Linked DNA regions of Homo sapiens: region 2 is linked to region 1. A link means that fine-mapping ties the variant in region 1 to the expression of a gene that starts in the linked region. Tissue or cell type: whole blood. Region 1 holds a variant in brackets; the other region holds the start of a gene. All regions are shown on one strand. Distances are between the middles of the regions.

Evidence for each region. PIP is the estimated chance that this variant, and not a neighbour inherited with it, causes the effect.
Region 2: it holds the start of DGKG, and the variant in region 1 is fine-mapped to the expression of DGKG in whole blood (TOPMed, PIP above 0.99).

The regions. Positions count from the first base shown.
Region 1 is chr3:186,186,729-186,194,832 of GRCh38, reverse strand. It overlaps DGKG (diacylglycerol kinase gamma), which reads left to right. Exons shown (of 25, transcript NM_001346.3): 22 at 6,454-6,631. Among named protein-coding and RNA genes, the nearest start is that of ETV5, 82 kb to the right of the region's middle. RefSeq lists an enhancer at 1-723. The variant A/G (reference allele first, on the strand shown) is at 5,002.
Region 2 is chr3:186,358,639-186,366,742 of GRCh38, reverse strand. It overlaps DGKG (diacylglycerol kinase gamma), which reads left to right and starts at 4,509. Exons shown (of 25, transcript NM_001346.3): 1 at 4,509-4,797. RefSeq lists a silencer at 4,350-4,439 and an enhancer at 5,224-5,741.

The DNA of each region.
Region 1 (8,104 bases):
CTTGCCCGGCTTTTTTTTTTTTTTTTTTTAAAGAAAGACCAAGAAAGAGTCGTGGAAGATGGGAGGGACAATAACTCAGTGACAGGGTACCCAAGAAAGAGAAAATTCCCAGCAGAAAGGGGACACATGCCTCCCGGAGCTACCGAGTCCTGGCTTCCACCTCCGATCTGGCCTGGTGGAGGTCATTCCTGAGAGCAGACAAAGCCGAGTGGCAGGCCTATAAACAGAACCGTCTGCGTCCAAACCAAATCTGTGGCACGGTGAATCGAGGTTAGAAGAAGGGGGAATTTCCTAGTTGCTAAAAACTGAAACAGGTCATCAAATAAATTGTGGAATCTCCTTCCCTAAGGCCCTTCAGAAATAGGATCGACAGGGCTGGAGTGGAGGGGCCCCCGCCCGCCGCCCTTTTGAGGTCACGGCGCAGGAGAGAAGGAGGGCGCGGAAACGCCGGCACCGGCTGGGAAGCTTCGGTGCTCCGGGTCCCTCTTGGCGAGGGCGGAGAAGTCGGCGGCCTCTGCCTAGAATTCTGTGATTGTAGGGATCGAGACATCAAGGGCGGGGGTGCAGAGGATTACAAGTTCCCTAGCGCGTCTCATTTGCACATAAATGTGCTTTGCCTCCTAACCTTGTCTCTGTTACCTGTGCACCTGCCTTCCACCAAACCAACCAACCACCCGTGGCTCAGGAAGAAACCAGAACTGGGGGGATTGTCTTCCCAAGGGGGACACAGTTGAACGTGGCCGGCAGCCTCTGGCCTCCCGGGCCTGGGTTCAGACGGACTCCGGCGCTGCTTCCAAGACCGACATCGGGCACCTGGCCGCCGGCGCACCCAGGAGCACGATTTCATGCGTGTGCACGCTCTCTGCTCGGGCCAGGAGCTCTGTTTCAGCCCCACTCCGGGCTATAAATCCCTGGTTCCGCCCAGCGCAGCCTCGGCTCGGAGGGCAGCCTGCTAGCCAGGTCCTGGGTTAGGGATGGCCCACGGTGCGCGCGGGGACCGCCACACTCCTTAGCGCCACGCTGGGGCCGCGCGGGCCGGAGCAGGGGGAGGGGGCCCGATGACGTCATGGAACAGTTGGAGGATTTAGCTCGGGAACCCGCCGGGGAGCGGGCCCCGGGGCCGGCGTTCCATTTAGGCCGACAGCGTCCCGGGCTCGGCTCCACTTTCCCAGACGGCACGGCTGCCTTCCACGTCCAGAGCGGGCCTGGGGTTCTGAAGGAAATCAGTGCACGATCGCGAGGCCAGGAACTCTGGAGAATGGGCACGCAGGCGTGCGCTTGCCAAGGCTCTTACCAGCCTGGGTCGGGCCAAGAGGCCGTTAAGATGCCTCCAGCAAAGCCTCAGGTAGGGGGAGTGAATTCAGGAAGATAAATGCCTCATGGCACAGAGGTTGGGGAACCTGTGATGATAACGCAGACAGTTACACAGTGCTACTGCATTCCAGACACCCATCAACCCACCCCTTAAGGCAGATGTTATTCCCCTATCCTCCATTTTACAGATGACAAATTAAACCTCAGAGGGGTAAGGAAACAACCTGGAATCACACCGCTGGCAAGTGACAGAGCCAAGATTTAAACCCATGTCTCTCTGCCTTCAAGCCCAGGCAGGCACGTTCTTTCCAAGACACTACATTGGCTCTCACTTTCCAAGTAGGTGCATTCCAAGAGGGAGGGAGGACATCAGCGTCCAGCAGACCCCAGGCTTCTCCCATCTCCTCTACTTGCCCTATCTACATGGGACCCACTGCGGTAATAGGGGAAGGGGACAACCTAGAAAGCAGAGTGAGGATTGCCTGCTCTTCCAGGAAGAGGTAAACGTTTACCAAGTTAATAGCAAACACACTTAGCTGGCTATGGATAGAGATGGAGGGGACAGGGTACAGTTAAAACTGTAGTACGGAAGAAAGGTGACTTTGTGGAATACTATTTGTCAAGGACTGTGCTGGTGATGTACTTTTTTAAAAAACAAACCTGGTGCGGAGGCAAGATATAATAATATTAATATCCAACATTGATGTGCCAGGCATTGCTCTAAGCACTCTATAAGATAGAGCAGTAGTGGGAGATCTCAATTATTCAAACAGCTGGAAGTTTAATTTTGCTATAAGCCTAGCATCAGCAAAAATCCCGATTTGCCTCACTGACTCATCTCCAGCGTAGGATCTGGCATCTGCCTTCCTAGGTTTGCATCCTGGCTCTGCCATCTTGTAGAGTAGGAAGCTGTGGAGCCTTGAGCAAGCATCTTAACCCCTAAGAGGCCCTGTCAGTTGGGGGTAGCAATGCTGCCTCCCTCATCATGTTCATGTGAAGATCGCAAGAGATACTATGGGTGAATCCCAGCACAGTGCCCTAGAAAGCTCTCACCAAGCATGAGTTGCTAATATTATTCTTATTACTGCTCAGAAGGGAAAGGGATGTTTTGACCAACAGTGAATAAATTGAGATGATGTAGAAGCAACTACAGCCAAGATGGGGAAGTGGCTGCTTCATCTAGAGGGTGATAAGGATAAAAGAAAATGTGGGCCAGGCCCGGTGGCTCACCCCTGTGATCCCAGCACTTCCGGAGGTCAAGGCAGGTGGATCACCTGAGGTCAGTTCAAGACCCGGCTGGCCAACATGGTAAAACCCCATCTCAACTAAAAATAGAAAAAAAATTAGCTGGGCGTGGTGACAGGCACCTGTAATCCCAGCTACTTCAGGAGTCCAAGGCAGGAGAATGACTTGAACCCGGGAGGCAGAGGTTGCAGTGAGCCAAGATCACACTACCGCACTCCAGCCTGGGCGACAAGAGCGAAACTCTGTCTCAAAAAATAAATAAAGGAAGAAAAAAGAAAGTGTGATCCAATGGGACTCTAGCCTAAATCTCTAATTAGGAATATGTGTATGAAGGATAGGAGGGTAGAAGACATTCCAAAATAAGTTTCTAAGAAGTCATGAATCACACTGAAAAGAAAAGAAAAAGGAGTCAGTTTTTGTTTTTCAATCAATGTGACAGCAACAGAGAGTGTTGGTTGAGCCTATGCTTTCAGGAAACTGTACACATACACGCAAAGGCAGAGCCTGGGCATGCAACCAGGTAGGAATACACAAAAGCAATTCAGACCTGTGAGCCTGGCTTCAGGCTAACTGAAGGCCCAGCTGAATGCTAGACAACGTTTGAAGTGAAAAAGAACATAGAAAGCATAGCTCAACAGGACTGTGCCATTCTGGAAGAGTTTTCATCTTTTCCAAAGAGAGTGGCCTTAAACTAAAAATGGAAGAAAAGATGCCAAAGGTGGATACTAGAACCCAAGGTAAATCAATGGAGAACTAACTGGCTTTGAAACACACACACACATTTGAATCCAAGTTGCTGGACAAGCCTGTAGGTGTCATTCAGGGGCCACTTTGACAAATCCAGAAAACAGAGTAGGTTCTAGCCAATAAGAGGCAGACAAATATGGCTCCAGTGTTCAAAAAATAAGAATAGGGTACATTTTGGAAACCACAGACTGATACACTTTATTCTGATCCCTGGCAAGATTCTAGAATAGATTATTAACAAAGTATTTAGGCTTTGCACACAGATATTGGTGACTTAGTTGAGTTATCTTATTGCTTTTCTAATAGAGGTTGTAGGGTGGTCACTTAGGAAATGCTGTTTGATCTCGGCACAATGTTTTATGTTTTCATGGAAAGAACGCAGGATTGAGGTCTGGAGACCTGGATACATATCTAGCTCCACCACTAATAAGTCAGATGACCACAGAGAAGTTTCTTAACCTCACTGGGGCTCATTTATGAAAGATGAGGCATGAAAGATGAGAGGCATCTTCCCTTATGTGCCTCTCATCTCTAAATTCCATCATCTGTCTAATAACAAAAAGTAGGCTGGGTGACAGTCCAGTCCAGAAGATGCAGCTCCGATAGAGCAGCCATACCCCAAAGGATGTTAACGCATAATGTTTGGTGTTAAACTGACCAAGGAGAGTGCTCGGTCACTGTTTTTTCCTTTTATGCGCACATATTAATGACTTAATCCCCAAATGATGGGAACGCGATGACAAAAGGTCACAGAATGAAGATTGGAAGTAAGCTGGGTAGACTAGAGGAAACACGGGCTGAGAGCCAGATGAAATTAATTAACATAAATGTAAAGTTTTATGTCTATGTTATTTTTTAAAATCTACACAGGTTCAGAATGGCGAAGAACTGGATGAAAAATAGATCATGAGATGATCTGGGCAATGAAGATGACCACCCATTTAAGCTGAAGTGATGTTGTCATCTAGCCACTAACAAAATGGCCAGTGCAATCTTTATCAATTGGATAATAAGGATAAGGATAATGATAATGGATAACGTGCTGAACTCTTACATGAGCTTTGCACGTCATCTCATTTCTGGGGCATGATAGTATCATAAAATTTCAGCCACAAGAAGTACTGGTGTGGTAGCCACCTGCCCCCATTAGATCCCGTCGTTGATGTAGTTTTCAATGTTGGGGGTCTTGCCAAATAGCAGGGTAACAAACTAGAGTGTGTGCAAAACAGGGAAGCCGGGATGGGAAAAGATCTGAAAACCAAGTCTCATGGGAGAAGATGAAGAGAGTTGACAGTCCAGAGGTGGCACAACCTGGTAGTAGTGTGAGAGGGAGGAGAAATAAAAAACTTGGGCTCTGACTACCTGCCCTTAAATCTGTGTACTTCCACTTGTAAGTTGTGAACTTTGGGCAAGTTACTTAACCTCCTCTGTGCCTCAGTTTCCCCAGTGTAAAAAGAGGATAGTCATAGTAACTAACTTATAGGATTATTAGGAAGATAATAAATGAGATGTGTATAAAATTGTGTGTGGTAGATGGCAGTGCTGAATACATGTGCACAATGGTGATCTTCATCATCATCATCATCTATCTAGGGGGTGGCCTATGGAGGAGGAAGGAGGGTCATTCTGTATGGGTTCAGAAGGGAGAACAGGACCAACTGGTGGAAACAAGAGTGAGAGAGAATCCAGATCAAC[A/G]TAAAGAGACCTCTCAAATTATCAGAACTTCCCAGTGAAAAAATGAGTTCGCAGTTACCAGAGTTGCTCACTGTATGCCATCTTGTAGTTGGGGAAACAAGATAACATAATGTAAGAACTGCAAAGAAATCAGGAGGTGAGTCACTATGAATGGCAACAAGTCTTCTAGTCCTGCTCTGTTGATAAGTCTCTGGAAGTTTGGGTTTGTACGTAACCTCAGAGATAGTGGGTTTTTATTGTATGCCTTTGATTTTTTCTTTCTCCCAATAAACAACATAAAGACCATGTACTTTGTACTCAAATCCCCCAACTTTGAATCCCTGCTCTGTTATTTATTAGCTGTGCAAGCTTGGATAACTTAGCTCAAGTCTCTGGGTCCAGTGTTTGCTTCTGTAAGTGAAATAAACTACCTACTATCCTGAGGAACAAGGATCAGAGCTGATATTTCTTGCTGTGTTGGTAAGCACGATGCCAAAGTGGGCTGACTTTATAGACATGTGAGATGAAAATTCAAGCCTTCTGGCTTTTTGTACCTGGTGGGGACTGCAAGTTGTGGAGATTGGATAAAGAAACTCTGCTCCTTCAGCAAACACATATGCCAAAATTGCATTTATGATACAGATACAGGAGACAGGCAGATTCTGAAAGCCTTCCAAAGCTTAAAGTCTTGTGCTTCTCACAGAGAGATAAAATAGGAGGGGGCAAAATGAAAATTTTCTGGCCAGGCGTGGTGGCTCACTCCTGTAATCCCAGCACTTTGGGAGGCTGAGGCGGGCGGATCAACAGGTCAGGAGATCGAGACCATCCTGGCCAACGTAGTGAAACCCCGTCTCTACTAAAAATACAAAAACTAGCCAGGCATGGTGGCAGGTGCCTGTAATCCCAGCTACTCGGGAGGCTGAGGCAGGAGAATCGCTTGAAACCGGAAAGTGGAGGTTGCAGTGAGCCGAGATTGTGCCACTGCACTCCAGCCTGGGTGACAGAGCAAGACTCCATCTCAAAAAAATATATATATATATGAAAATTTTCTGTCATTTGTTATGTTCTGAATTTTCTGTCATTTGTTAGGTTCTGAATTCAGTTCCACTAAATCTTCTAATGGTTAGGAAGGGGCAAGATTGATGATAATGAGATTAGACTGGAGAACAGTTTGACAATTGACTTAAGAACCAGCCCTAAAGCACTTCTAGACCTAAAGATGACCCTGGAGCCTGTACTGTATTCCCCGGAGCTGACCAGGACTGGATCTGTCATCTCACCACAGCAGTCAAAGCATTAAGTCTGAGCGACTTTGCCCATGATTTCTCTTCTGACAGTGGCAGGGTGGTGGCTGAGGACCTGTCACATCCTTTAAGAGAGTACACACACACACACGCACGCACACACACAGAGCACCTTGGGTTGTGACACACTGAGGACACTAACAGATGGCCTTTTCTCTCCGTCCTCCAGTGTGATGGGGTTGGGGTGGACCTGAGCAACATCTTCCTGGAAGGCATTGCCATTCTCAACATTCCCAGCATGTACGGAGGCACCAATCTCTGGGGAGAAAACAAGAAGAACCGGGCTGTGATCCGGGAAAGCAGGAAGGGTGTCACTGACCCCAAAGAACTGAAATTCTGCGTTCAAGGTAAGCCAGGAATGAGGATAATTGTTTTAGGTCAATGCCCAGTAGTAGGTGCCCTCAGGTGGATGTCAGCAGGCCTCGTAAGGCCCCACAGCCCAGCAAGGACTCCATGCTCTGCGGATATGCTGACTCGTCATCCGATGTTGCAAAGTTTACAACTTAATCCAGAAGACAAAAATTCACAATAAGGGTGTCCTCAATGACAGTCAGTTGTCAAGCTGTGGGGCTCCATGAGGTTCAGAGTCAAATGCTGCCAATGTCAAGGTTACCAGGGTTCTCCAATAGCTAAATCCAATAGTCAGTTCCTAACCCTCATCTTGCCACAGCTGTCAGTGGCATGTGACCCAGCTGATCACTCCCTCTTCCTGGAAACGCTTGGTCCACTTGGCTTCTAGGACTTGATTTGCTCATGGTTTTCCTCCCCGCTCACTTGTCACTCCTTCTCGGTCTCATTTCTCTCTGACCTCTTGATGCTGGAGGATCCCCAGGCAGGGTCCTTGACCCTCTTCTCTTCACTGTCTGTACTTAAGCCCTTGATCACCCCATCCAGTCATAAGACTTTATTTAAATACCATGTGCTTACTCATGATGCCTCCAGCCTGTCTCCAGCTTTCCCTGAGCTCCAGGCTCCTATGTCCAGCAGCCTGTGTCATACTTCCCTTATGTGTTTAGCAGACACCTCAAACTTGGTATGTCCAATGCAGAGCTCTGCTGTCCCTCCCCCAAACCTTCTCCACTCACAGCCTTATTTCTCTCCATTGGTAACTCCAGCCTTCCCATCACAAGAGCCAAAACGCTTGGCATCATCCTTGACTCCCCTTTTTATCTCACGGCTCACAGCCAGTCCATCAGAAAATCTGTTAGCTACTTTTAAAAAACATCCAGGATTCAACCACGTCTCACCACCTGCATTCCTGCCATCTTGATCTGAGCCACCATCCTCTGTCCCCTGGATTACTGCAAAGCTTCCTCACTGGGTTCCTTGCTTCTATCTCACTGCCCTAGGTAGCCTGTTCTCACCACCACATCAGAGCAGTCAGGTTATGACACTCCTCTTCTCAAAATCCTGCAGTGGCTTGGAGAAAAAGCCAAAGATCACGTGGCCTAGAGGGCCCCGTATGTTTTGGCCTCTCATTACCTCCCAGACCTCCTCTTCTGCCACTCTCTCCATCGCTCACTCTGCCTCCTCCACTCTGGTTCCTCCAACACAGCAGGCTGCTCCCATGAACCAACTATTCTTTCTGTCTGGAACAACTGGGTAGTATGCTTTAGAGGCCACCAGCTGGGCCTTCCACTTTTAACTCACCAGAATACAAACACAGCTTTCTGAGAATGTCCTTAAAACCACCTCTACCCCAGCCCCAAAAGTAGCCATTTTCCACCAGTGATCCAAATGGAGAGATTCAATCAAAGCTCCTGGCAGCTGATTCCCCTGTGGGCTCACGGGTCCTCACAGGTCCTCAATGGACAGGTGAG
Region 2 (8,104 bases), 170 kb before region 1:
TTAGCAAGTAGTATAATAACTAGGCTTTAAAAAATAGACTACCTTAAGGGAACAGACTATCTTCAATAACTGTATTTTACATTTTTGCATAGCACTTCTAAAACACTTTCAAATAAGCTTCTTCATTTAATCATTACCTTGAGATGCATGTATTACTATCCCCACTTTGCAGAAGAGGAAATTGGAGCTTAGAGACTCAGATTAGCTCTTTTGACTCCATCTAATTCTAAATTATCTATTTATTATTCTGAACCCCATGGCTTCTCCTTTGTGCTTTCCTTCAAGCTTATCAGTTGATATTGTGAGAATTTTCCCAGCTTGCCTTGTGGAGGGCCCCACCCAGGCAAGGGGGCGGTACTTAAAAGTTGTTCAGTTGCTAGTACTTAACAGAGTATCAGTGCCAGAAAGGGTTGTAGGGACCATTTCCAGCCTCCTTATTTTCTAAGAAAACTAAAATGAGGGAATCTCCTGCCTACATTCCCAGGGCTGGATCCCAAATCCCATTCATGGCAAAACTGTGACCAGGAGCTCCTGGTTCTCCTGTTTCCAACCCACAGTCTCACTCCACCACAGCCTTCACAGTCAAAACCAAGAGGAAAGTTAAGGTTCGGACTTGGCTAGTATCTGTTCCCATCCTGTCATTGCTTGATAACATGGAAAGATTCCATTAATTATGAGATCATAAAATATTAGGTGGAAGACAGCTTGGAGATAATCTGGTATAATCCTTTGTGTTCTGTACATGGGAAAAGTGAGGCCTAAGAAGGCGAGCAGAACCCCCCCGGCCCACCTTGCGGTTGGTGACCCTGAACTCAGCTGTGCTCCAACTGTCAAGTGCTGTTCGCTCAGCTTGTCAGAGACAGTGGGACTAAAAATTTCCAGACACAGGTACCTGACTCAGCCCTCGCTTTGCCTTGGCAGTGGAGATCAGGCATCAGCTGCTGGCTTGGATGATGTGTTCCCAGAGCAACATGGTGAGTGTGAGCTGCCAACATTGAAGTCTCAGGGAATGTAAAGTGTTGAACCAGTTAAACATCCAAAAATGCCCCGTCTCTCAGAAACAAGGGTGACTCATCACAGCGCTTGGGCTACAATTGGGAATGGCATTAGGGTGGCTGTGGCGGCTAAAAATCCATGCTTAGAAGCCCCCAGCTTCGTTTCCTCTGGCTTTTTGTTCGCAGGTCTTTTCTCTGGCTGAGAACCAACATACACATGCTCCACTGCCAAACCCAGCCCTCCTCCTCCATGAAGCCTGCCTTGACTCTTTCAGCCCAGAGGAGGTCTCCTTTCTCAAGCCCTGAGAATCTGCCCTGTGCAATTTGGCACTTGATTCCATACTGTCGTTCACTGTTTCTTAACCAGTGGAGCGTTTGTTTTATAACTGACATGGATTGCAAAATCTTTGAGGAGAGGCACTAAGCTTCCTCCTCTGTACCCTACAGTAAGTCTCAGGGTGTCACCACAGAGCAGAGACATGCTCAGACTCACAGATAGTCCTGACCTCAAGACTCTTTCTGCTTTACCTTATGTTTGCACATACAGCAAATGCCCAATAAATCCTCACTTGTTTCACCGTAGCTTCAGCCTTTTCAAATAAAGAGCTCAGTTGCAGGGCCTCTGTCAGCCCATGCAAATTAGAGAAAAGGCATCCCTCCCTCCAGGCAGACATAACCCTAACAGGTTGTGTGGCTGGGCAAGTGGGGCATGAGTTGGATTTCAGCCCCTTAGCTGGGTGCCCTCTGCAGCAAGCCACATAAGCCACCTGGGCTCTGGCTCTTCGTGAGAGCAGCAACAAGGACTCCCTCCCCACAGTGCTCCATTCTGATGGGGAAGGCCTACCTTGGGAAAGCTGGCATCAGATACTTCCCAGCTTGCTTCCCAGCTCATTTCCCATCAAAAACAAACAACAAAAAATCCACACCTGCCATAGCTCCTCACTGTGGAACCCAAGTCTATGCTCCCAGAAGAGCATTTGGAGACTCCCACAATACTGTCCCAGCCTTCTTTTCTTGTGCTGGGAAGACCCAGAACTCACCATGAATTGTCCTACGTCTCTGCTTTTGCTTTCTCCCAGCCTAGATTGCCCTTGTCCTGTTGATCTTTAAGTGAGATCTCTATTCCCCTTTAAAATCCGATCGCAAACCCTACCTCCTCCATGATGCCTCCATTAGCACTAATTGTTCTTGGTGCTTCTTCCCGCCCCATCCCTCTTTGCCTTCCACATTGCTTCAGCCTCTACTACCACCCTTTTCCTCCATGTTATTAGCATGTAACTCAGTCCACACAGCCTTCTCTGAACTCCTTCTGCAGCAACTCAGATGCATCATTTGGCTCCATCCTGATCCTAAAGGAATCCATTTGCAAGCAAACCGATGAACAATATTGACTTTACAAATGATTTCTTTCATAGGACCGGGGGCTTTCATAGCCCACCCCACAGCAAACTACTTACCAATCTTTGCAAGCATCTCCCCTGTCCAAATCCCTGGACAACTTGGCAACCCTGTTGCCTGTTCTCAGGCAAGTTGCTTGGCAACCCTGTCCTCAGAGCTCCTCCCCTCTCGTTACCCTTCCCCAATGTGCTCTCAACGAAGCTAAGGCTCCACACTCAGTCTCTGCATGTCTTCTTCATTTGTTCCATTCAATTTATTTCCTTCCTGTCCTAATAGGCAGAGCAACTCAATGTTGTCCTAACACCTATTTGCAAACATGTACCCCAAGTCCATTATGATGCTCAGCCAAACACAGGGTCTCCTTCAGTTTAGCCTTCTTTAGAAGGAGTCAAGAATAGACAGCCAGAATGTTTTTCTTGTGACATGTATGTGCATTTTCCTCCATTGAGCATGCAGTCAAAAAAAGCAAGGATTGTGTCTTCCACATCCATGCAACCTAGCAGAGTGAAAATATATACCAGAAACCTGTGCTCAGGGCTCCTCTCTTCCAGGGATGAGGACAGTTCTAAGCCCTTTCTGTCTCTCAGTTCTTCTTTCCTCCCAAGTAAGGCCCAGGACTGGAGTTACGGGGAAGCACCTGAAGACAGAGTAGGAGTTTAATAAATAGCTGTAAAATGAATGAGTCAGTGACTGAAGAGGAAAAAAAGAAAGGACAAGGAAGAACTTTGAAGGCACCCTCACCAAGATTATTTCAGCCTAGCTGAAGGAAACTTTGAGAAGCCACCCAGGGTGATAGAATGGATAAGACCCAGAGGATAAGAGGAGTCGCAAACACGGGGTTCTGGTATCAGCTCTGTCTTCATCACTGTGTGGAATCTTAAGGAGATCTCTCAGCTCTGTTTCTCATCTGTCTCACCAGCCTGCCTGCAGATAGCCTAGTATGGACACCACCCAACAGGGTCCTCAGGGCTGTTTGACATTCGTGTTTGAGGCTTCTTCCCCAAATGCACAGACACCCAGAGCCCCTCGGCGCCTCCACACTCTGCGGAAAGCTTTTCTTGGCTGCAGTGCTGGCCCGGGGACCTTCACTGCCCACTGGCAGAAAAGAATTCTCGGCTGTGGAAATGAGTAAACTCCACATATTTTAAAGATGACAGTCTAAACTCCTAATGACTCTAAATGTGGTGTGAAATGGACAGCAGTCATCTTGCTGTGTGACATGCCTGAAATAGTGTCACCACCACCATCACCCCCTCACGTGGACATGCACGTCATGGAAAGAGAAGCAACAAGTCATAGTGCCTTGGCTAATGTAGCTCCCCTATTCCCCCCGACCCCTCACCCCAGCGTCTTTTCTGTGCTCTTCTACATTTTAAAAAAAGAAGAGATCTATTTATTCTGCAGGAATACAGTCCAAGGTCACCTAAAAGCAAAGGAGAATGGGAATTAAACACACCCAGAGACCCGACCCATCCAACAGAGTCCAGCTCAGGCAGGCTGTGCCAGTCTCCACCAGGCTACGAGGGGAAAACCTTTTCGAGTTGAACTGCCACCAATCCACTGCCACCGAAGTCAAGGTTGTCAGAAATGACCCTCTGGACAGGGCTAGTGATTTGGATCCTAGAGATACTGAGTTCCTGGGAAACAAAGAGAACTTGTTGATTTTGTATTTTTATTTTTTCTTCGATTTGGTCGGGATATTACGGTAGCCTTGACCAGAGTTGAGAAAAGGAAACGCCCAGTCGGTATTTATTTGTCAAACAGTTGTCCTTTGCCTCCGGGGTCAGGGGCCCTCTGGTACCCACCACTGTTGCATCCTCTCCACACTCCTAAGCCTGTAACTCCTCCTCCCAAACCGAAGCCCTGTCAGTAAAAAGCGTCCTAATGATGCCCGCGCCCTAGTTGCACCAAAGGGGGTCAGGTTCCCATCGAGCGGATCCACATTCGTGTGTGCGCACGCGTGTGCATGTGTGGAAGCGCGTGTCTGTGTGTGCCGTGTGTGTACGCGCGCGCGCCGGTGTGTGTGGCGGGGGCGGGCTCTGCGCCCGGGGGCAGGGCTCCGCAGTGAGAGTGGCAGCTGGACTTGCCAGGCTGCGAGGGGCAGGGCACAGAGCCGCAGTGCCGTAGTAGCGGGCCACGGAGATAGACAGCTTTGGAGCTGCTGAACTCCGAGCACAGGGTGAAGACCCCGGCGCTACCAACCACAGCCTGGCAGCCTGGTCTCCGCGGCACCCACTGGGGCTGCATCCCCCTCCCCCGAGAGGGCTGCGCAGGCGGGAAGACGCCCAGAGGCCAGCTTCGGTCCCCCTTCTGTCTCTCGGTTCCTCTTTCCTCCCAAGTAAGGGAATAAACCGCGAAGAAGGAGCGCCCCGGGCCACCGCGCAACCAAGTGTTGCCTGGTGAGGTAAGACGGCGGCCGGCGCGGCGGAGGGGGTCCCCGGCTCAGGGAGCACCCGGTGCAGCAACTTGGTAAAGGAGGGCAAAGCGGGAGCCGGTCCCGCGGCCAGGGAAGGGGCTGCAGCCAAAGCCACGGCGCCCACCCCGACAGTTCCACCTGCCACAAAGCCCTGCAGGAAGGGATGCCCCGCTCGAGGGGTGCAGGCTTGGGGAACGCACAGGGTGGGGCTCGGCTCTCTCTGCGACTGAGAGGCCCCCTCAAGCCTCAAAGCTGTGCGGGTGGGAGGCGGCCTTGCTCCAGGCAGTTTGCTAAAGCAACTGGTCGGATTTCCTTCTTCTTCTGGACTTAACCTTGGCTCCTTGATATCCAGTTCGCGCTCCAGGCAGTCCGAGAAGCAGGAGATGCTTTTCCTAATGTCTGGCCGCCAAAGCCTCCGACCGTCCCGCGGGGTTCTAGGACTTTGGGGGCACTCCACAAAGCCCCTGCGCAGGGCGACTTAAAGGGAAGCTGAAGCGAACACGGACACCTCAGAGAATAAAGGAGGGAAGGGTCGAATCTGAGGTTGATCTGTGTAGTCTCAGAGTCACAAGATGTGTCCGTGTGTGTGCTTGTGTCCTGAGGAGTGCGTACCCGGAGTCACCTGTGGTGCTTTCGCAGACTCCACCGGTCCACCTCCCCTTGCCTAGTCTGAGATTTTCTTCGTTTGAACTAGTGGAATAGAATTAGGGGAGGGGGCTGTGGAGTTCTAAAAAGCCCTACAGGTGATTTGACGTGCTGCCCCCATCCCCACCATCACTGCAGTGGAAAGCTTGGGACTAGAGCTAGAACCACCTCCCAGATGGGAGGGATGAGCTGCGGAACTCAGGGTGGCGGTCGAGACCCCTCCCCCAGTCGCCCCCCGCGGCGGGAGCGTCTGCTGCAGCGCGAAGCGATCTGTGGCTGCGCCGCAGTGGTGCCCGGGAGCGCTGTGAACCCGTGGGCGCGCTCTCCCGCGCTGCGCCGCTGCCTCCTCGGACTTCATTAGCATACGATGACCTCTCTGTGGGGAGGAGGGCCTGGGAGGGCTGTTTGTCATTCCTTTATTTTGGGGGCTTGGCGACGACACTTTGGATCTGGAGGTGAACACCAGGGGTCATGATGAGAGACAGTGGTCAGGACACAGGACTGGAAACGACCCCTCTGGTCTGGATGGGGGAATCAACTTTGTTATTTTGGTGCTTGGGATTCTCTGTCTGTAAAATACAGCTGGCAGAGCCACTTGCTGGCACACAGGGCACCCTGGTTGTCAATGAAGGAAATTAGATCATAGAGGGCAAATGTCGAGGTTTGGTCATGAACCCAGGCACAGACACACACCCCTTTATATTTTATGTCCCTCTCACTCTCATTCCAGGCATGTGTCTAACATGGGAAGGTACTTAACTGTTTGTCATATTAAAAGACTACATTTGCTGGAGATTCCATTCCGAATATGAATTATACTCCTTAAATAAAACGGCTGCAACTAAGCCAACTTCCCGGTCGTACTCCTGATCTATGTCTTTTTTGCCAATCACCCTTAACGTTTACACCCAGCACTATAGGCATTACTACAGGTATTTTTCTGGGAGGGGCTTTAGGGTGGGAAGCTAGTAGATGAGTCTTTCCTACCTTAGAATTTTATGGAGTGGTTGGTTCAGATCAACCGAGACATGGGGAGAAAACGACAAACATCAGCGTGTCTTGAAATCTAGACTCTCAGAGATGGGAGTAACTACTAAGATCATCTGTTCCAGCTCCCCCAACTGCTCCAACTCCCCACACAACACCATCAACAGATGGTGAGGATCCCTCCAACCCGGACACTCCCAGAGGCCCAGGCTGTGCATGTGTGAGCCTCTGCGAGGAAAGAACCCAGAAGCCAGCAACTCTCCCCTCTCCTACTGATGGGAGTTGGTGGATGCTGGCCCCATCTCCTCCCCTGGAAGAGAAGGGGGAAAAGGGCGGGGAAGTACCTTTTCTTTGTGGTAAAACTTTAAAACTTTTAAAATGTATATCTTATTGTATTACATCATTATAATGTACTCTTTTAGTATAAAAGTAATTCATGTTCATTGCCTAAAAATTGGGAAGTTGAAAAGTATGCAAAGAACAAATCAATCACCCATGATCCTACCACTCCCATCCCACACTGTTAATATACTGGCATATTTCCTTTCCATCTGTTTTTATGCCTCGAAATTATACAATCCATAGAGAGCCAGCATTTATTGGGTGCCTAATAAGTATACTTTGCATGGTGTTAAATTTTATATTCATTATATCCTTTAATCCTCAGGAGTCCCTCTGAGGTGTTATTACTATCAATCCCATTTTTCTAGGGTTGCATTTTTCTAGGGTTCTAAGACTTCAGGTGACTTGCCCAAGTTACATAGCTAGTATGTGGCAGAATCAAGATTCAAACCCAGGCTGTCTGACTCAAAAGTATGGTTGCTGAGCCCCTGTAGCTATTGGTTCTCTGCTTTTTTCTGAATTAGTGTTGTAGCAAAAGACCTTCATGAACATTGTTTTCCTGGCTGCATATTATTACACTGTTAGTTATTTAAGTTGCTTCCTGTCTTTAGCAACTACAAATAACTCTGGGCAAAGTCTTTACTGCACACACTTCCCATTACTTCCTTTGGATAGATGCCTAGAAATAGATCACCAGGCCAAAGGGCATGAATGTTTTAAGGCTCACAGTATATATGAGAAGCCACTTTTCAAAAAGGGTACACTAATTTAGGATTCCATTCACCAGAAACAACTCGGCCATAGTTCAAGCAGATGACCTTTAGGAATCCAAATAGGCCAAGGCCTCACACGACCAAGCCACATCACACGAGCATTCTTCAGTCTCATGGAAGAAGGAATCACACATATCACCTTGCTTTATACACTCGGGAGGGATTATGGAAACCATACAACATAAAGCTATACCTATTTTTATGTGAGCAAGTATCAGCTGCAGAATTCTCTAGCTAAATGTCACATACTAACTTTGAACAAATCAAACCATCATGTAAAATATACAAATGTGTATAATGTCCCACTTCTCCATACAAGTCATTATAACAACATTCACTCTTGTGAACGTGCATCATGATCACAGCCAGGTTCAGCAAGCTTAACCCATCAGCAACAGCTTCCTCACATACTGGCCATATTCAAAGAGTTGTTTATTTGTACCAAGTATCAGAATTCCACACCCAACCATAGTGAGAGCTGATGTCACTTTATAAGTAACAGAGTTTGTCTGACTAAAAAAAAAAAAGAAATCAAGGCTAGTAACTAT